Linked DNA regions of Homo sapiens: region 2 is reported to be linked to region 1. Evidence: microRNA targets listed by miRTarBase, many of them from high-throughput screens and not tested one by one. Region 1 holds a microRNA gene; the other region holds the end of a gene's coding sequence.

The links. Region 1 holds the annotated microRNA hsa-miR-6772-5p (UGGGUGUAGGCUGGAGCUGAGG, at 2,459-2,480, opposite strand). A microRNA usually pairs through its seed, bases 2 to 8, with sites in the 3' UTR of a target mRNA and lowers its output. Matches are read on the target gene's strand: a 7mer-m8 pairs with bases 2 to 8, a 7mer-A1 pairs with bases 2 to 7 and ends in A, and an 8mer does both.
Region 2: miRTarBase lists ZNF394 as a target of hsa-miR-6772-5p. The part of its 3' UTR that is shown has no 7-base or 8-base seed match.

What each region holds. Positions count from the first base shown.
Region 1 is chr16:57,769,868-57,778,582 of GRCh38, forward strand. It overlaps MIR6772 (microRNA 6772), which reads right to left and starts at 2,485; the gene lies at 2,422-2,485. It overlaps KIFC3 (kinesin family member C3), which reads right to left. Exons shown (of 20, transcript NM_001130100.2): 4 at 2,356-2,421; 5 at 1,676-1,819; 6 at 1,331-1,570; 7 at 660-833; 8 at 1-88. RefSeq lists enhancers at 4,775-5,353, 5,904-5,963, 5,932-6,510.
Region 2 is chr7:99,487,094-99,495,808 of GRCh38, forward strand. It overlaps ZNF394 (zinc finger protein 394), which reads right to left. Exons shown (of 3, transcript NM_032164.4): 3 at 6,147-7,538. The coding sequence ends at 6,436. ZNF789 (zinc finger protein 789) reads left to right here. Exons shown (of 5, transcript NM_213603.3): 5 at 1-512. The coding sequence ends at 395. Among named protein-coding and RNA genes, the nearest start is that of ZNF394, 8.8 kb to the right of the region's middle.

The sequences.
Region 1 (8,715 bases):
TGGCCCGGTTCTTGTCCTCTTCCAGGGACTGCATCTCCTCCAGCATCTGCCCATGGGCCCGCTCCAGCTCTGACTCGTACATGGCAATCTGGCCAGACCAGGAAAAGGCTCAGTACCTCGAGGTGCGGGAGAGAGAGGGGCAGGTGCCACACCGAGAAAGAAACTGGTCACCTCCCATGCACATGAACACACATGCACACACACATGTGCACACCCAGAGGGGCAGAATGGCCTTGTCTCCCTCCCCCTACAGGGCTGTGAGCTCTGGGCATTGGCTCCAACACCAACCCAGTGCTGAGCACACATCAGGTGCCCAAGCCACGTGCCCTCAGGAAGGTAGGAGAGGGCCTCTGTGATGACAGTGACAAGTGCCATGTAGAGCTTACTGAGCACAGCCTGTGTGCTGGGCCGTGGGCACAAAGCTTCTTGGGATGACGTTCCTGAGTCCCCACTGTGAGGTGGGTTCTGGGACCAGATCGTGTTATAATAGATGAGGAAAAGGAAACCAGACAAAACTTGCCCTGGGTCCCGTGGCCATCGGGGAGAGGAGGGACTGGACCCCGTGTCTGTGGGGTACCCAAATGTTTAACCGATGCATTGGCCCAAGGGCCTGCCTCTGGCTTCCTGGCTGGGCATGTGCCCCCACACAGCCTGGGTACCTGCGCCCGGAGCCGCGCGGTCAGCTGGTGTGAGCTCTGCAGCTGCTGTTCCATCTCCTTCAGCACCTGCCTCTGCATAGCCACCTGCTCCTGCAGGTGCTGGTTCCGGGCCTGGGACTCGCTGAGGGCCTGCTTGGTCTTGGACGACTCCACCTCCACTGTCTTGATGACATACTGCAGGGTGAGGGAGGAATGGCACGTGGAGCCAGCGGGCACCGTACCTCACCCAAGAGCCTGAGACGCAGCAGGCCAGGGGAAGGAACTCTCGGGAACATCCCACTCAGAAACCAGAAAAAAACTAGAGGAGCCTTGAGGTCCTGGCTTTCCAGAAAGCTGGGGGGGTCTCCTGGAACCTTCTCAGCTTAACAAGAGGCTACTATGAGCCTGGCTGGGGCCCCATCCTGGGTACAGACAAGAAAGGCAAAAAGACGAGGGCAGAATCCAGGGGCTGCGCTGCATCTGTGCCTGGCACCTCAGCTGTTGGATACCTACTCGGTGCCTGGCCCTGGATACAGGAAGGGGAAGGGGCAGGACCAAGCACAGAACTGGAATGATTCTTCCACCCACACACACCTACCTATTCACCAGGACAAGCCCCCCTTATGGGCTAGCCCTGCCCCAGGTGCCAGGGGCCTTGGGCTGAGGCACAGATCAGGTGGGCCAGGGCTCACCTTGACAGGTGGGGACTGGGCCCGCAGGCTGGCAATGGTCTCGTGGCTGTCACGCAGGCGCCGACTAAGCCGCTCCTCCTCCTGTGCCTTCTCAGCCAGGCAGTCCTTGAGTCGCAGCTCCACCTCAGCCAGCCGGTCGGTCTTCTGCTGCACCTCTAGGTTCAGCTCTGACAGCATGCCTTTGCTTTCCGCCATCTCCAGCTGCAGCTGGGACAGCTTGTCACGGAGCTGGGCGCTCTCCTGCAGCCATTGGGAGGCACTGGATGAGTGCAAGGGACAGGCTCACTGTGAGGAGCTGGGGTGGCCCTCCAGGACCAGCATGGGGACCACGGCCATTCTGCTCACCTGGCTGTGCTCACAACCTGGGCAGGGACCTGCTGGCTTTGTGCGCAGCTCTTGCAGCTCGGCCTCACAGCGCCGCATCTCCTGCCTCAGTCGCTCATTCTCCACCATCAGCAGGTCCCGGTGCTTCTCCAAGTCGGTGCCCCCCTGCAGAGAGCCAGGGCCGAGGGGGCGCATGTGGCGAGGGCAGATGACGGGGGAAAGAAGAGAGGCCCGCGGAGATGGCACAAGGGCAGGGAAGAGAGGAGAGGTGTGGAGAAAGGCAGAGGGAAGGAGAAAAAGAAAAAGAAAAAGGCAAGGGCAAGAGAGGAGGGAACAAGCTCAAGAGAGAAACCAAGAGAAAGACAGTGGAGGGCAGAGTTGAGAAGGGTGGTGACCCAGAGCCTGCTCTCCCTGCTGCCCCCACCCTATTCTGAGTGTGAAAGTCACAAGGAGAGACATATTTATACCAGGGTTCACACTCCCGTTTAATGTCAGCAACAGAGAAGGAACCTCCCACCCCCTGGAGCCACAAGGCCTCTGAGGGTACTAGGAGGTGGGGATAAGGCTCTCGGTGTGTTTCTGAGACAGGGTGGGATATGCGGGCTCAGGAGAGAGAGGGTCGCACCCCTGCCCCTGGCAGGGCCCATCTGCACAAGGCAGGCCAGGCCCTGCGCTACCCCAGGACAGCCTTGTGGCCTCACCAGCTCAGATCGCAGTCGGCTCACTTCCTGGGCCTGGCTAATGAGCTTCTCCTTCAGGTGTTCTACCTGTGGGCACAGAGTCAGGAGCAAGGTGAGCCTCAGTCCTCAGCTCCAGCCTACACCCAGGCCTCCTGCCCAGCACCAGGGATGACTGATGTGGCTGTGGCTTCTTCTAAGGCTGTGGCCTTAGGTTCCCCTATGTTCAAGCATCCCATCACACCTGGGACTTCAGGTGAGAGAAACCTGGGCTGGTGCTGACAGCCTCCCGCACCCTCTCCCTCCACAGGACAGAGCCAACCCCAGCTCTTCAGGAAAGCCCAGAGGGCAAGTGCAACCAAGGCCACCCCGATGCCCCCTGGGCCCACCCAACGGCAGCCCACCCTCAGGACCCCTCACTACACGAGCCCCTCCCAAAGTCCTGTACCTGCCTGTGTCTATGTAATTTTATGTTCTCTCTCTTTAAAAGGGCCCCCAGATGGTACATACTCCAGGTCCTCCGAGCCCTAGATCCACCCTGGCCCAGCCCCCAGAATTTTCCACTTGGGGTGGTCTCTGGCAAGTCAGCCTGTGGAGATGGGTCTGCCAGTGGTCAGGGCACACTCAGAACCTGTGTCCACCCCTGCTCCCAATCTGCCTTGCAGGAAAGCTGTGGCAGCCAAGGCTCTTATAGGGGGAAGGGGGTGTGCACCCCATGAGGAAGCCACGGTTACCTAGCTTATCCGGACCCCAGAAGAGGGGACACCATCATGGTGCCAGTCCCATGAGGGCAGATCCCAGGGGAGCAACCCTTCCCCGGCGCTGTCCTCCAGCCACCCATCCCCTCCCAAGGCCCTAGACCCTGGTCTCACATCAGCCCACCCCCAGAAACCTCTCTCAGGAAACAATTCACAGACACAGACTTTGGCTCCAGCTTCCGTCAGGGCATGTTTAGTACTTTTCTTGCAGAACGTCCTGTGGTGAGCAACCCCCACCTCGGGAAAGGTGCGCTAAGAGCCAGATTCCTGTGTGGTGGTTTAGGAGGTTTACACAGCTGGGTTCTCATTACTAAATGATAGGCAACAACGTCCACTGATTACAGGGGACAGCCAGGTAAGGCAGGTGAGGGGCTGTGCAGGGCTTGGCTCCCAAGAACCCTTTAAGAAGGCGGCCACCACGTACTCTCCTCGGACGACAGGAGGTGAGAACGCACACCCAGCATCGCCAAAATTCTCATCTTTCAAGAGAGGCCTAGGCCAGCCTGAGCAACACAGCAAGACCCCATCTCTACAAAAAGTTTCAAAACTCAGCCGAGTGCACCAGTGCACGCTTATAATCCCAGCTGTAATCCGGGGGGTTAGGTGGGAGATCACCTGAGCCCAGGAGTTTGAAGCTGCAGTAAGCTATGATAGCATCACTGTACCCCAGGGTGACAGAGCGAGGCTGTCTAAAAAAAATAAAATAAAAATAGAGGCTTAGAGTCCGCCCCCTTAGCACTCAGCAGCATGCATCAGCCATAGTTAAGACAGGCCGGACATTTGGATTTTGGGGGTGTGTGTAAAATCTCCCTACTTTACATGGTTGAGATGTCATCAAACAAGTCTGTGTCATCAAACAAGGTAGTGTTCGGCCTCGGAGGTCCCTGTCTCCCAGGGTGGGAGAGAACGGCTGACTCACAGCAGCTAGGCCAGCTCTGAGTGGTCAGGGAGGAAGTGGACCAAGGGATCCACCCCCACCTCTGAGGAAAAGGCCAGGGAGCTGGCACTGCCTGCTCTTGGTGGGGCAGGGGGATTCCAAGATGCAAGACCCAGGTGAAAGGCTGGGGGCCCAGCCAGGCCTCCTGGGGGACAAGCAGGTGACCCAAGGGCCAGACCCCTGGAGGTCAGCTCTGCCGCCACCTGCACAAACACATTCCTTCCTAGCAACACGCTGGGCCACGGGCCAGGCAGGGAGGCAGAGCTTGTGCCACTTCTCTGCCCGCTCAGTGCCTGATGAGAGGACGGCTCAAGTCCTTTGGCCCCTGGGTGGGAGTAGGGACAGTTTGCATGAGGCAGCCTTTCTGCTTTCGTCCTAAAATTGAGAATACCCTGAATAAGCACCCTTAGAGGAGTGGGCAGGTGAATTACAATGTGTATATATAGTACATAGACTATTCTGTCATCATTACATTCATGTTTATCAGGAGTTTTAAATGTCATGGGGAAAGGCTCATCAACATATTAAGTCCAAGAAACATCTGAAAAACCATTAAGTGTACAGCACTAAAAAGTGGGGGTCTCTGGGCTGTGGAATTATAGTTGACAAAATCTTTATGCTTTTCAGTAATTTTTTTTTTTCTTTTTGAGACAGGGTCTCACTCTGTCACCCAGGCTGGAGTGCAGTGCCTCGATCTAGGCTCACTGCAGCCTAGACCTCCTGGACTCAAGCCATCCTCCCATCTCAGCCTCCCGAGTAGCTGGGACTACAAGCACATACCATCACGCCCGGCTAATTTTTTTTTTTTTTTTAATGTATAGAAGGGTCTTGCCATTTTGCCCAAGCTGGCCTTGAATTCCTGGCCTCAAGCAGTCTTCCCGCCTCAGCCTCCCAAAGTGCTGGGATTACCGTTGTGAGCCCCTGCGCCCGGCCAGTAATTTTTCAGTCTCAAAGAATACGTAATTCCTACTCTCCCTACCCTGACATAAGTGAACTGACTTCCTCTTCAAAAGGTTGAAGTCTCCTTCCACGCCCCCTCCCTCCCCAGAAAGGCTGCTGCCTCAGCATGGGGCTGGGCGCACTAACCTTGATCATCTCCACTGCCGCCCCTGCCAGGCACTCAGACCCTGATGCAGGGAGAGTGGGGTTTGCCAGTGTTTGCTGGGGGTGGGAGGCGGGATACCCACCAGCCACCTGCCTGCGGCCCAGGGTTCTGTTCTGTCCTTGCATCACAATGGGAACCTGGGGGCTCCTGGGCTCTGTCCAGAATCTCAGAGGGGCACCCAAAAGGAAGTGGCCGCAACCGCAACCAGGGCAGGCTGGGGAGCATGGGGGATGGTGAGGGAGTTGAGGAAGGGGCTCTAAAGGCCCCTTTGTTCAGAGGTGTCAGACACTAGGTCATCTCTGGCTTCTTGAGGGCAGCAAAGCAGGGGGAATGTGACTGAGACGCAGCAGACTGGCACCACGAGCACTCTGGCCAAGGCACCAGTGGCCTGCTCCGTGGCAGGTGGTTGGCCAGCTCTACTGGGGGCTAGGTCTCGGGCTTGTAGGGAAGATGTCTGCTTTCTCCTGCACTTGAAGGCAGGCAATCTCTCAGAGTTAGGGAAAACAGGCAAGAAGTCAGAGAGAAACGGAGGCACCTGGGGAAAGCGGATGGAAGATGGCCTGGGAGCAGTGAGAGCCAAGAGCAGGCAGGGCCTTCCTCAGGGAAGACTGAGGGCCCTTCACACACTCACCGCAGCTTCCAGCCAGCAAGGGCCGTCCATGTCTCTAAGCCCAACAGGGGAGGGTCCCGAGTGCCACCCTGGGCCCGATACATACTTGTGGCCACAAAGGGGCAGCAGGCACATGCCTGAGCCCAAGACACAGGACGGAGGAGAAAGCAGACTCCCCACTAGGCGGCTGAAACGGTCCCAGGACAGCATGGACGTCAATCCAGGGCTGAGGACGGACCAGGCTGGGGCTGTGCGACACTCCTCCCGGGCCCAGGCTCCTCATCAGCCAGAGCAACTGAATCACGGGCCTGCTGCAGGGGGCGTCACCCTGCCTGCTCAAGGGGAAGAGGGAGCTGGGCCTGTCTGCCGGCTTGACACCACCTGCATTTACACTTCACAGGCAGAAGCGGCTCGACCAAGGGTGGGGCCAGCCAGCCCAGGTCTTTGTGTTTTCTCAGCTGTCTGCTTCCAAGGCGGCCTCTTACCATCACAGAAAGAAAACCTGCTGGTTACCTCCTTACCTCCCACCAAGCCCAGTCAACGATCATCAGCTGTCTGCTGAGGAAAAGCGGGCTCTCCCAGGCTGAAGCTGCTGAGCTGGGAAGGCCAGAGGGTCTGGGATCCAGACAACCTCAAGGAAACTCAGCCCAGAGGCCAGCGGGGCGGCCCTGGGAGCACACCCTGTGGAGCCCACAGAAGGCCTGATCCTGGCTGTATGACCACCGGCCAGGCCTATCTGTCCCCTGTCCACGCCACCCTGCCTCTGTTGCCAAGTCTTCACCTCTGGGTCCTTCCGCCACTGATGGGCAGTAATAGCAGCTGACAATTCGAATTCTAAAGCCAGGCTGCCCAGGTTCTAATCCAGACATCCCCTTACCTGCTGGGTAACCTTGGACAAGTCTCTTAAGTTCTCTATGTCTCTTAGTTTCCTTATTTGTATAATGAGGCTACCTCATGGAAGCTGTCTCGAGGATTAAACGAGATGATATATGCGAAGGCAGGGATTTTTGTCTGTTGTGTTCAGCACTGTACTCCCAGTGCCTGGAACAGTGCCTGGTACACAGTAGGTGTTCAGTAAGTACCTGTAGGAAGAATGCTGAATGCATGAGGGGCCAGCCAGAGCAGAACTTGTGGATGAGGTTGGTAAGCAGAGACAGAAAGGGTGGTGGGGCTGGAGCGTGCTAAAGGATGGTCACCTCCACCAAAGGCAGGAGCTGCCACTAGACCTCAAGCGGTGGGTGCCATGTGGGAATGTCAGCTCAGAGGTGCCACATCTTCCAATATTTTATGACAAAAAGGAAGTCTAGAGTTTTATGTGAATTTAATTAAGATTTGAATGTTGGAATTAATTTGATTTTAAAAGCAGGGCAATTAGAACTAATAAATTCAGCAAAGTTGAAGGATACAAAATGAACACACAAAAATCGGTTACATTTCTACAACTAACAATAAACAATCCAAAAAGGAAATTAAGAAAATAATTCCATTTACAATAGCATCAAAAAGAATAAAGTACCGAGGAATAAACTTAACAAAGGTTAAATATTGTATGCTAAAAACTACAAGATATTGGTGAAAGAAATTAAAGATGACACCAATAAATGGAAAGACATTCCATGTTCATGGATTAGAAGATTTAATATTGATAAGGTGTCAGTACTACCCAAAGTGATCTACAGATTCAATGCAATGCCTAACAAAATCCCAATGACATTTTCTAAAGAAATAGAAAAATCCATATCAAGGGACACCACATAGCTAAAACAGTCTTGAAAGACTGAAGGTCTCACACTTCCTGATTTCAAAACTCACTAAAAAGCTACAGCAATTGGCCAGGCGCGGTGGCTCATGCCTGTAATCCCAGCACTTTGGGAGGCCGAGGCAGGCGGATCACCTGAGGTCAGAAGTTTGAGGCCACCCTGGCCAACGTGACGAAACCCCATCTCTACTAAAAATACAAAAATTAGCCGGGCCTCATGGCAGGCGCCTGTAATCCCAGCTACTCAGGAGGCTGAGGCAGGAGAATCGCTTGAACCCGAGAGGCAGAGGTCGCAGTGAGCTGAGATTGCACCACTGCACTCCCGCCTGGGCAGCAGAGCAAGACTCCATCTCAAATAAAAAAAAAATTAAAAAAAAAAAAGCTACAGCAATCAAAGCAGTGTGGTACTGACATTAAAACAGACATAAAGAGCAATGGAATGGAATACAGAGTCCAGAAATAAACCCTCGCATATATGGTTAAATGATTTTTGACAAGGTTGCCAAGATCATTTAATGTGGGAAAGGATAATCTTTTCAACAAATGGTGCTGAGAAAACTGGATATCCACAGGCAAAAGAATGGAGTTGGATCCTTACCTTATACCATATACAAAAATTAACTCAAAATAGATCAAAGAGGGCCAGGCGTGGTGTAATCCCAGCACTTTGGGAGGCCAAGGTAGGAGGAGTGCTCGAGCCCAGGAGTTCAAGACCAGCCTGGGCAACATAGGGAAACCCTGTCTCTACAACAAGTAACCAAAATTAGCTGGGCACAGTGGCACACGCCTGTGGTCCCAGCTACTAGGGAGGCTGAGGCGGGCAGATCACTTGAGCCCAGGAGGCCAAGGCCACAGTGAGCCATGACTATACCACCACACTGCAGCCTGGGCAATACAGCAAGATCTTGTGTCAAAACAAAAAACAAAAAACCCCAAAGACCTAAATGTGAGAGCTAAAACTATAAAACTCTCAGAAGAAAATAGAGGAGAAAATGTCATGACATTAAATTTGGCAATGACTTCTTGGATATAACACCAAAAGCACAGGCAATAAAAGAAAAAATAGGTAAGTCAGACTTTATCAAAATTAAAAACTTTTGTATAACAAAGGACACTATCAACAGAGTGAAAAGGCAACACGTGGAAAATACTCGCAAATCATTTATCTGATAAGGAGTTATTATCCTGGATATATAAAGAACTATAACTCAACAA
Region 2 (8,715 bases), not on the chromosome of region 1:
GTCAGAATTCAACCCTTATTCGACATCAGGTGATCCATAGTGGAGAAAAACGCCATAAATGCCTTGAGTGTGGAAAAGCCTTTGGCCGGCATTCAACCCTTCTATGTCATCAACAGATTCACAGTAAACCGAACACCCATAAATGCAGTGAATGTGGACAGTCCTTTGGTAGGAATGTGGATCTCATTCAGCATCAAAGAATCCATACAAAGGAGGAATTCTTTCAATGTGGAGAATGTGGGAAAACGTTTAGTTTTAAGAGGAATCTTTTTCGACATCAGGTCATTCACACTGGAAGCCAACCCTACCAATGTGTCATATGTGGAAAATCTTTCAAGTGGCACACAAGCTTTATTAAGCACCAGGGCACTCACAAAGGACAGATATCCACATGATGTTAATTGGAAAGCAGTCATTGGAGAACTAGAACTTATAAACCTCTACTTCAAGTGTGTATCACGTAATTGTTTCCATGAAAAGCAATAAATGTAACAAAGGGTTTTTCTATGGGAGCCATCTTTGTGTAGCCAATCTGTAGTGAAGAAACGCTTAAAAGGAAATGTTAGCTTGGGCAACACAGTGAGATCCCATCTCTACAAAAAATAACAAAGCCAGGTGTGGTGGCTCACACCTCCAGTCCCAGCTACTAAGAAGGCTGGGTGACAGAGTGAGGCTGTCTCAAAAAAAAAAAAGAAAGGGCTGGGCGCGGTGGCTCACGCCTGTAATCCCAGCACTTTGGGAGGCCGAGGTGGGCGGATCACGAGGTCAGGAGATCAAGACCATCCTGGCTAACACAGTGAAACCCCGTTTCCACTAAAAAATCAAAAAATTAGCCGGGTGTGGTGGCAGGCGCCTGTAGTCCCAGCTATGCGGGAGGCTGAGGCAGGAGAATGGCGTGAACCCAGGAGGCGGAGCTTGCAGTGAGCTGAGATCGTGCCACTGCACTCCAGCCTGGGCGACAGAGCGAGACTCCGTCTCAAAAAAAAAAAAAAAAAAAAAACAGAGAAAAGGTTATTAGGCTGTTGTGTCCACTCTCTTGCACCCTCTATGCCCTCATTCCCTCCAGCCTAGTTAAGGCAGAAGGGAGCCATAGAAGCTGTGCCGTGTGGTTGCCAGGCTGGGGACCATTGCATGGGTTGTGAATGATTGAAGGTTTGAAGACAGCCAGTATGGTGTCGCATGTCTGTAATCCCAGCACTTTGGGAGGCTGAGGCTGGAGAATCACTTGAGGTCAGTTCAAGACCAGCCTGGCCAACATGGTGAAACCCCGTCTCTACTGAAAATACAAAAATTAGCTGTTTGGGAGGCTGAGGCAGGAGAATCGCTTGGACCTGGGAGGTGGAGGTTGCAGTGAGCCAAGAACACACCACTGCACTCCAGCCTCAGCAACAGAGTGAGACTCCATCTCAAAAAAAAAAAAAGATTGAAGAATGCCTTTCCTGTATTACATACAACTATTACATGCTAACGTATAGACTTAAAAAACAAAACAAAACTAAGGGCTACTCACTAGTAACTAGTGAGGTATGAAGAACTAAAAGTTGCCCATAATCAGGCCGGGCATGGTGGCTCACACCTGTAATCCCAGCACTTTGGGAGGCCAAGGCGGGTGGGTCACAAGGTCAGGAGTTCAGGACAAGCCTAGCCAAGATGGTGAAACCCCGTCTCTACTAAAAATACAAAATTTAGCCAGGCACAGTGGTGGGCGCCTATAATCCCAGCTGCTTGGGAGGCTGAGGTAGGAGAATCACCTACCTCAACCGGGAGGCAGAGGTTGCAGTGAGCTGAGATTGCGCCACTGCACTCCAGCCTGGGCGACAGACCAAGACTCCATCTCAAAAAAAAAAAAAAAAAAAAGTTGCCCATAATCTAAAATGAGTATGTTAGATTCTGATAAGAGTTGTAAGTCAGCCCGGCGCAGTGGCTCACGCCTGTAATCCCAGCACTTTGGGAGGCTGAGGCGAGTGGATCACGAGGTCAGGAGTTTGAGACCAGCCTGGCCAATATGGTGAAACCCCATCTCTACTAAAAAATACAAAAATTAGCCGAGCATGGTGGTGCGCGCCTGTAGTCCCAGCTACCCAGGAGGCTGAGGCAGGAGAATCGCTTGAACCTGGGAGGTAGAGGTTGCAGTGAGCTGAGATCATGCCACTGCACTCCAGCCTCGGTGACAGAGTAAGACTCCATCTCAAAAAAGAAAAAAAAAAAAAAAGAGTTGTAAGTCAATATTTGTAATAGGTGCCGTGGGCCCTGCCGAAGTCCCTCTGGCCTTACACCTTCTGTGGGCTTCATCTGACTGTGTCTGCACCTTGTGGCCTGTGGGGTAATAACACATTCTGGGAGCAGCTGTCAACCAATCATCGATGGGAATTTGATAAACACCAAATTCTCCATCTCCCCATGTGTGGAAAACTCTGAAGCATGTGTTTTAGTTTCCAGAGGTTCCCCATGAATTGCACACAGGCACTCACCCAAGGTAGATACCTCATTGGGTGACTTCCCTTCTGTCTCTTCCACCTTCCCTAATAGTGTTGCAACCTCTCCCCAACAAATAAACTACTTGTATTCAAAAAGTGTCAATTATGTTCTCTGAGAAGCCATATCCCTTCTGTTTCCACAATTATTCTAAGCACATTCTGACATTCAGTTTAAATAGGTTGAGCTGAGTGTATTCTCCCTAGAGCTCAACAATATAAGAGATCCATTTAAATTATTTGGATATCCTAAACATCATCCTATGTCTGTATTAAAAATTGCTCTAATTTGCCGGGCGTGGTGGTGGGCACCTATAATTCCAGCTACTCAGGAGGCTGAGACAGGAGAATTGCTTGAACCCGGGAGGTGGAGGTTGCAGGGAGCCAAGATTGCACCACTGCACTCCAGCCTGGGCGACAGAGTGAGACCCCGTGTCAAAAAAAACAAACAAATATTGCTCTCAGGCCAGGTGCACTGCGTCATGCCTGTAATCCCCAACACTTTGGGATGCTGAGGCAGGTGGATCACTTCAACCCAGGAGTTTGAGACCAGCCTGGCCAACATGGCAAAACCTCATCTTTTTTTTTTTTTTTTTTTTTTTTGAGATGGCGAGTCTCGCTCTGTTTTCCAGGCTGGAGTGCAGCGGTGAGATCTCAGCTCACTGCAACCTCCGCCTCCTGGGTTCAAGCGATTCTCCTGCATCAGCCTCCTGAGTAGCTGGGACTACAGGTGCCTGTCAGCATGCCCAGCTAATTTTTGTATTTTCAGTAGAGATGGGGTTTCGTTCGCCATGTTGGCCAGGCTGGTCTTGAATGCCTGACCTCGTGATCTGCCAGCCTTGGCCTCCCAGTGCTGGGCTTACAGGCGTGAACCACTGTGCCCAGCCTCTCTCATACTTTTAAAGTACAAAAATTAGCTGGGTGTGGTGGTTGTATGCCTGTAGTCCCAGCTGCTTGGGAGGCTGAGGTGGAAGGATCGCTTAAGCCCAGGAAGTTGAGGCTGCAAGTGAGCCAAGATCACACCACTGCACTCCAGACTGGGCGACAAAGTGAGACCTTTTTTTTTTTTTTTTTAAAAAAAAAGATAGTTTGTATTTACGATTCTCTCCAATGACCAGTTCAGACATTCAGGCACTTGTCACTCAGATTAATCCTCATGTTTAAAGAAGGTACAAACAGGAGAGAACTGTTTCTAATTCACTGAGCCACAGGGAACTGCCAAATCTAGAGAGACTCAGCCATAGAAAATGAACAGTCACATCCAAAGCGCAGCCATCCTGAGATGGCTTCAAACTTAGAGGGAGGTGTAGGTGCTGTCCAGGCCAGACACTCTTCAGTTTCCAAACAGTTCCTAGAGGAAGAGAAGCCACTATCACCCAGAAGCCACCTACACCCAGACTAGACCCGGGGCTCTGCCCTGTGTTTGTCAGGGGCCACTAGTGCCCTGACTGCTGTTTCCTGATGATATTCCTTCAAGCAGAGGCCTCTATTACACGTGCCCCAGCTCACCTACATCAGGGAGAGAGTGGTCTCCTGACCGTGATGGTGGGAGCCCCTAGTGGAGCTGAGCAGACACTCTCTTCCCTTCATTTTCACAGGACCTGGAAAGGACAACCACACTTGCTTTACTGGAGATGATTCTTATGTTCTATTTTATTCACTTCTGCAAGAAATACTCAAATTTTGTATAATAAGCCTTGTGATATCATGATAAATATGTATCTGGTCTTCATCCTCAATGACTAGCAGAGAGCTCCCCAAACCTTGGAGAATTCCTGAGGGATAAGGGTGCTAAGAGCATCTTTTCTTATCATATTTGGTCTTTGACACTTGTTCCTGACACAGAGCTGTTAAACCCATTGGAATTTCCTTAGTGATGCATGTCTTTGTTCTAATAAGGCAACTCTTGGATTTCCGATGGGTTCAGCTTGGGGGCTAACTGGAAAGACCAAGGCATGATTAGAAACTTGGAAGCTGAGGCGGGCGGACCACGAGGTCAGGAGATAGACACCATCTTGGCCAACATGGTGAAACCCTGTCTCTACTACACTACAAAAAATCAGCCGGGTGTGGTGGCGAGTGCCTGTGGTCTCAGCTACTCGGGAGGCTGAAGCAGGGGAATTGCTTGAACCTGGGAGGCGGAGGTTGCAGTGAGCCGATATCATGCCACTGCACTCCAGCCTGGGCGACAGAGAATCTGTCTCAAAAAAAAAAAAAAAAAAAAAAGCCAGGCACAGTGGCTCCAGCCTGTAATCCCAGCACTTTGGGAGGCCAAGGCGGGCGGATCATGAGGTCAGGAGATCCAGACCATCCTGGCTAACACAGTGAAACCCCATCTCTACTAAAAATACAAAAAATTAGCAAGGCATGGTGGGGGTGCATGTAGTCCCAGCTACTCAGGAGGCTGAGGCAGAAGAATGGCATGAACCCGGGAGGTGGAGTTTGTAGTGAGCCGAGATTGCGCCACTGCACTCCAGCCTGGGCGACAGAGCGAGACTCCGTCTCAAGAAAAAAAAAAAAAAAAAAAGAAATCAGCAAGTCATAAAACTGAACTCCTAGGCTCCTAGAATGGGAAAGAAAGAGGGACTATGCAAAATTAGGTTTTCTGGAAAGTGAAAAATAGAGTGCTTCTTTTGAGTACTGAGCTTTACCAGATCTTTTGGGGATTATGAAGTAGTTGAAACCCTCTCTACAATCTAAGGCCAAAGGCAAATTTTAAATGACTAAAATACATTCTTAGGCAAGTATTAATAATTGTAGTGAGCAAGATTTGGTTCAAAAGTGAATAAAAAGGCCGGGCATGGTGGCTCGTGTGTAATCCCAGCACTTTGGGAGGCTGAGGTGGGCGGACTGCCTGAGCTTAGGAGTTCACCACCAGCCTAGGCAACACAGTGAAACCCCATCTCTACTAAAATACAAAAAATTAGCTGGGCATGGCATGGTGCACCTGTAGTCCCAAGTACTTGGAAGGCTGAGGCAGGAGAATTGCTTGAATCCAGGAGGTGGAGGTTGCAGTGAGCCAAGATCATGCCACTACACTCCAGCCTGGGTGACAGAGCGAGACTCCATCTCAAAAAAAAAAAAAAAAAAAAAGTAAATAAAGGTAGGCTGGGTGTGGTGGCTTGTGTCTGTAATTCCAGCACTTTGGGAAGCTGAGGCAGGAGGATTCCTTGAGCCCAGGAGGTTGAGACCAGCCTGGGCAACATAGCAAGACCCTATCTCTTAAAAAAAAAAAAAAGCTGGGTGTGGTGGTGTGTGCCTGTGGTCCCAGCTACTCAGGAGGTTAAGGCAAGAGGATCACTTGAGCCCAGGAGGTTGAGGCCACAGTGAACCACGATCACACCACTGGGCTCCCGCTGGAGGGCTACGACGAGACCCAGTCTCAAAAATAATACATAAAGGTAGAGCGCAGATAACAAGGACAGAACCCCGTTACATGTCAGCCTGGCTCTTATCATCAGAAGTCTCTTACCTGGCATCAGCTCACATTTCAGAAGGCCCCCTACTTCCTCATTCCTCACTCACTGAAACTATCAGTCTGTAATGAGGCTCAGGACAGATTGAACCTATCTTGTAGGAGATACTCAAGGAAGATCCATAATTGACTGATATACTCCAAATGGCAAGGAATGTGGTTCTGGACAAGAAAAGAAACAGGCCAAGTCACATAGAAACATATCAAAATGACAGCACTTTATTTCTTTTTTGAGATGGAGTCTCGCTCTGTTGCCCAGGCTGGAGTGCAGTGGCATGATCTCAGCTCACTGCAACTTCCGCCTCCTGGGTTCAAGTGATTCTCCTACCTCAGCCTCCCGAATAGCTGGGCTTACAGGCATGCACCACCATGCCCGGCTCATTTTTGTATTTTTAGTAGAGACAGGATTTTACCATGTTGGCCAGGCTGGTTTCAAACTCCTGATCTCAAATGATCTGCCTGCCTTGGCCTCCCAAAGTGCTGGGATTATAGGCGTGAGCCACCACGCCCAGCCGACAGCACTTTATTTTGATGAATTCTTTGGTGTCGGATAAGGTGTGTACTTTGTCTAAATCTTTCCCCACATTCAAGACATTTGTAAGGCTTTTCCCCAGTGTGAATTCTCTGGTGTTTAATGAGGGTTGCACTCTGATTGAAGCGTTTCCCACAGACGGAACATCCATAGGGCTTCTCCCCAGTGTGGATTCTGTGGTGTTTAAAGAGGTCAGAGCGCTGTTTGAAGCTCTTCTCGCATTCTTCACACTTATAGGGTCTTTCCCCTTTATGTAGTCTCTGATGTCTAAAAAGGTTGGAAATATGACAGGTTTCCCCGCATTCCTCACATTTAAAATGTTTGTCTCTACTGTGGGTACTTTGATGACGATTTAGGTGTGAATTCTGCCTGAAGCGCTCCCCACATTTCAGACAGGTGTACGGCTTCTCGCCTGTGTGTGTCCTCTGGTGCTTGGTCAGGGCAGCACTCTGGCTGAAGCTTTTCCCACATTCTTGGCAGCCATAGGGTTTCTCACCTGTGTGGATTCTCTGGTGTCTAAAGAGGTCAGAGCGTTGTTTGAAACTCTTCCCACAGTTACCACATTTATAAGGTCTTTCTTCATGGAGCTGCCTCTGGGTCTCAAAAAGGCTGGAATGATGGAAACTGTCTCCACTGTCAGACTTGTGAGGTTTCAGCACGTGCCACGTCACCATGTGGAAACTTTGCTTGCACTTGTTCCCGTGTTCCTCACTGTCAGTGGGCCTCTCTGCTTTCGGGATGTGCTGACATAGAACAAGGTTGGAACACCTGGCACTGTTCTGCAATTCATTATTTTTAGAGTCTTCCCCTTCTATGGAACCATTCTTATTGACATCTGAGATGCTGTTGAGTCCTTCTGCTTCAGGAGAATTTTCAAGTTTCAGGGGCAAGGGGTCTCCGGACTGCTTTTCCACCCTGTCCTCATGGGTACTGCCACACTTAGAAAACAGGGGGCGCTTCCCCTGGAACGCTTCTTGTAGTTGCCCCTGTGGCTCCGCTTCTTCTAAAATTTGTTGCATTGGAATCAACTCTTTGTTCTCCACTCTGCTTTCCAAACCTGAAACGTGAAAATACAAATTCCTGCCAGTGCATCCCTGTGCAACACAGAAATAAGCAAGTGCTGGCAGAATGTTAAACCCTCAAACCCCTTTTACTTTTTAATTAATTAATTTATTTTTTGAGACGGTGTCTTGCTTTGTCACCAGGCTGGAGTGCAGTGGTCCGATCTCAGTTCACTGCAACCTCTGCCTCCCGAGTTCAACTGATTATCCTACCTCAGCCTCCCAAGTAGCTGGCATTACAAGTGCACGCCACCACACCCAGCTAATTTTTGTATTTTTATTAGAGATGGGGTTTCACCATGTTGGCCAGGATGGTCTCTATCTCTTGACCTCATGATCCGCTCGCCTCAGCCTCCCTATTTATTTATTTTGAGACAGAGTATTACTCTGTTGCTATTTATTTATTTTGAGATGGAGTCTCACTCTGTTGCCCAGGCTGGAGTGCAGTGGCATGATCTCGGCTCACTGCAACCTCTGCCACCTGGGTTCAAGTGATTCTCCTGCCTCAGCCTCCCAAGTAGCAGGGATTACAGGTGCTAATTTTGCTAGTTTTAGTAGAGACAGTGTTTCACCATATTGGCCAGGCTGGTCTTGAACTCCTGACCTCGTGATCCGCCTGCCTCGGCCTCCCAGACTTCTGGGATTACAGGCGTGAGCCACAGCACCCAGCCTATATTTTATTTTATCGTATCTTATTTTATTTTTGAGATGGAGTCTTGCTCTGTTGCCTAGGCTGGAGTGCAGTGGCATGATCTCAGCTCACTGCAACCTCTGCCTCCCAGGTTCAAGTGATTCTCCTGCCTCAGCCTCCCAAGTAGCTGGGATTACAGGCACCCACCACCACACCCGGCTAATTTTTTTGTATTTTTAGTGGGGACGAGGTTTCACCATCTTGGCCAGGATGGTCTCGAACTCCTCTGACCTTGTTATCCACCCCCCTCGGCCTTGCAAAGTGTTGCGATTACAGGCGTGAGCCACCACACCCAGCTATTTTATTTTTTTGAGATGGAGTTTCGCTCTTGTTGCCAAGGCTGGAGTGCAGTGGAGTGATCTCAGCTCACTGCAACCTCTGCCCCCCAGGTTCAAGCAATTCCCCTGCCTCAGCCTTGAGAGTAGCTGGGATTACAGGCAACGTGCCACCACACCCGGCTAATTTTTGTATTTTTAGTAGAG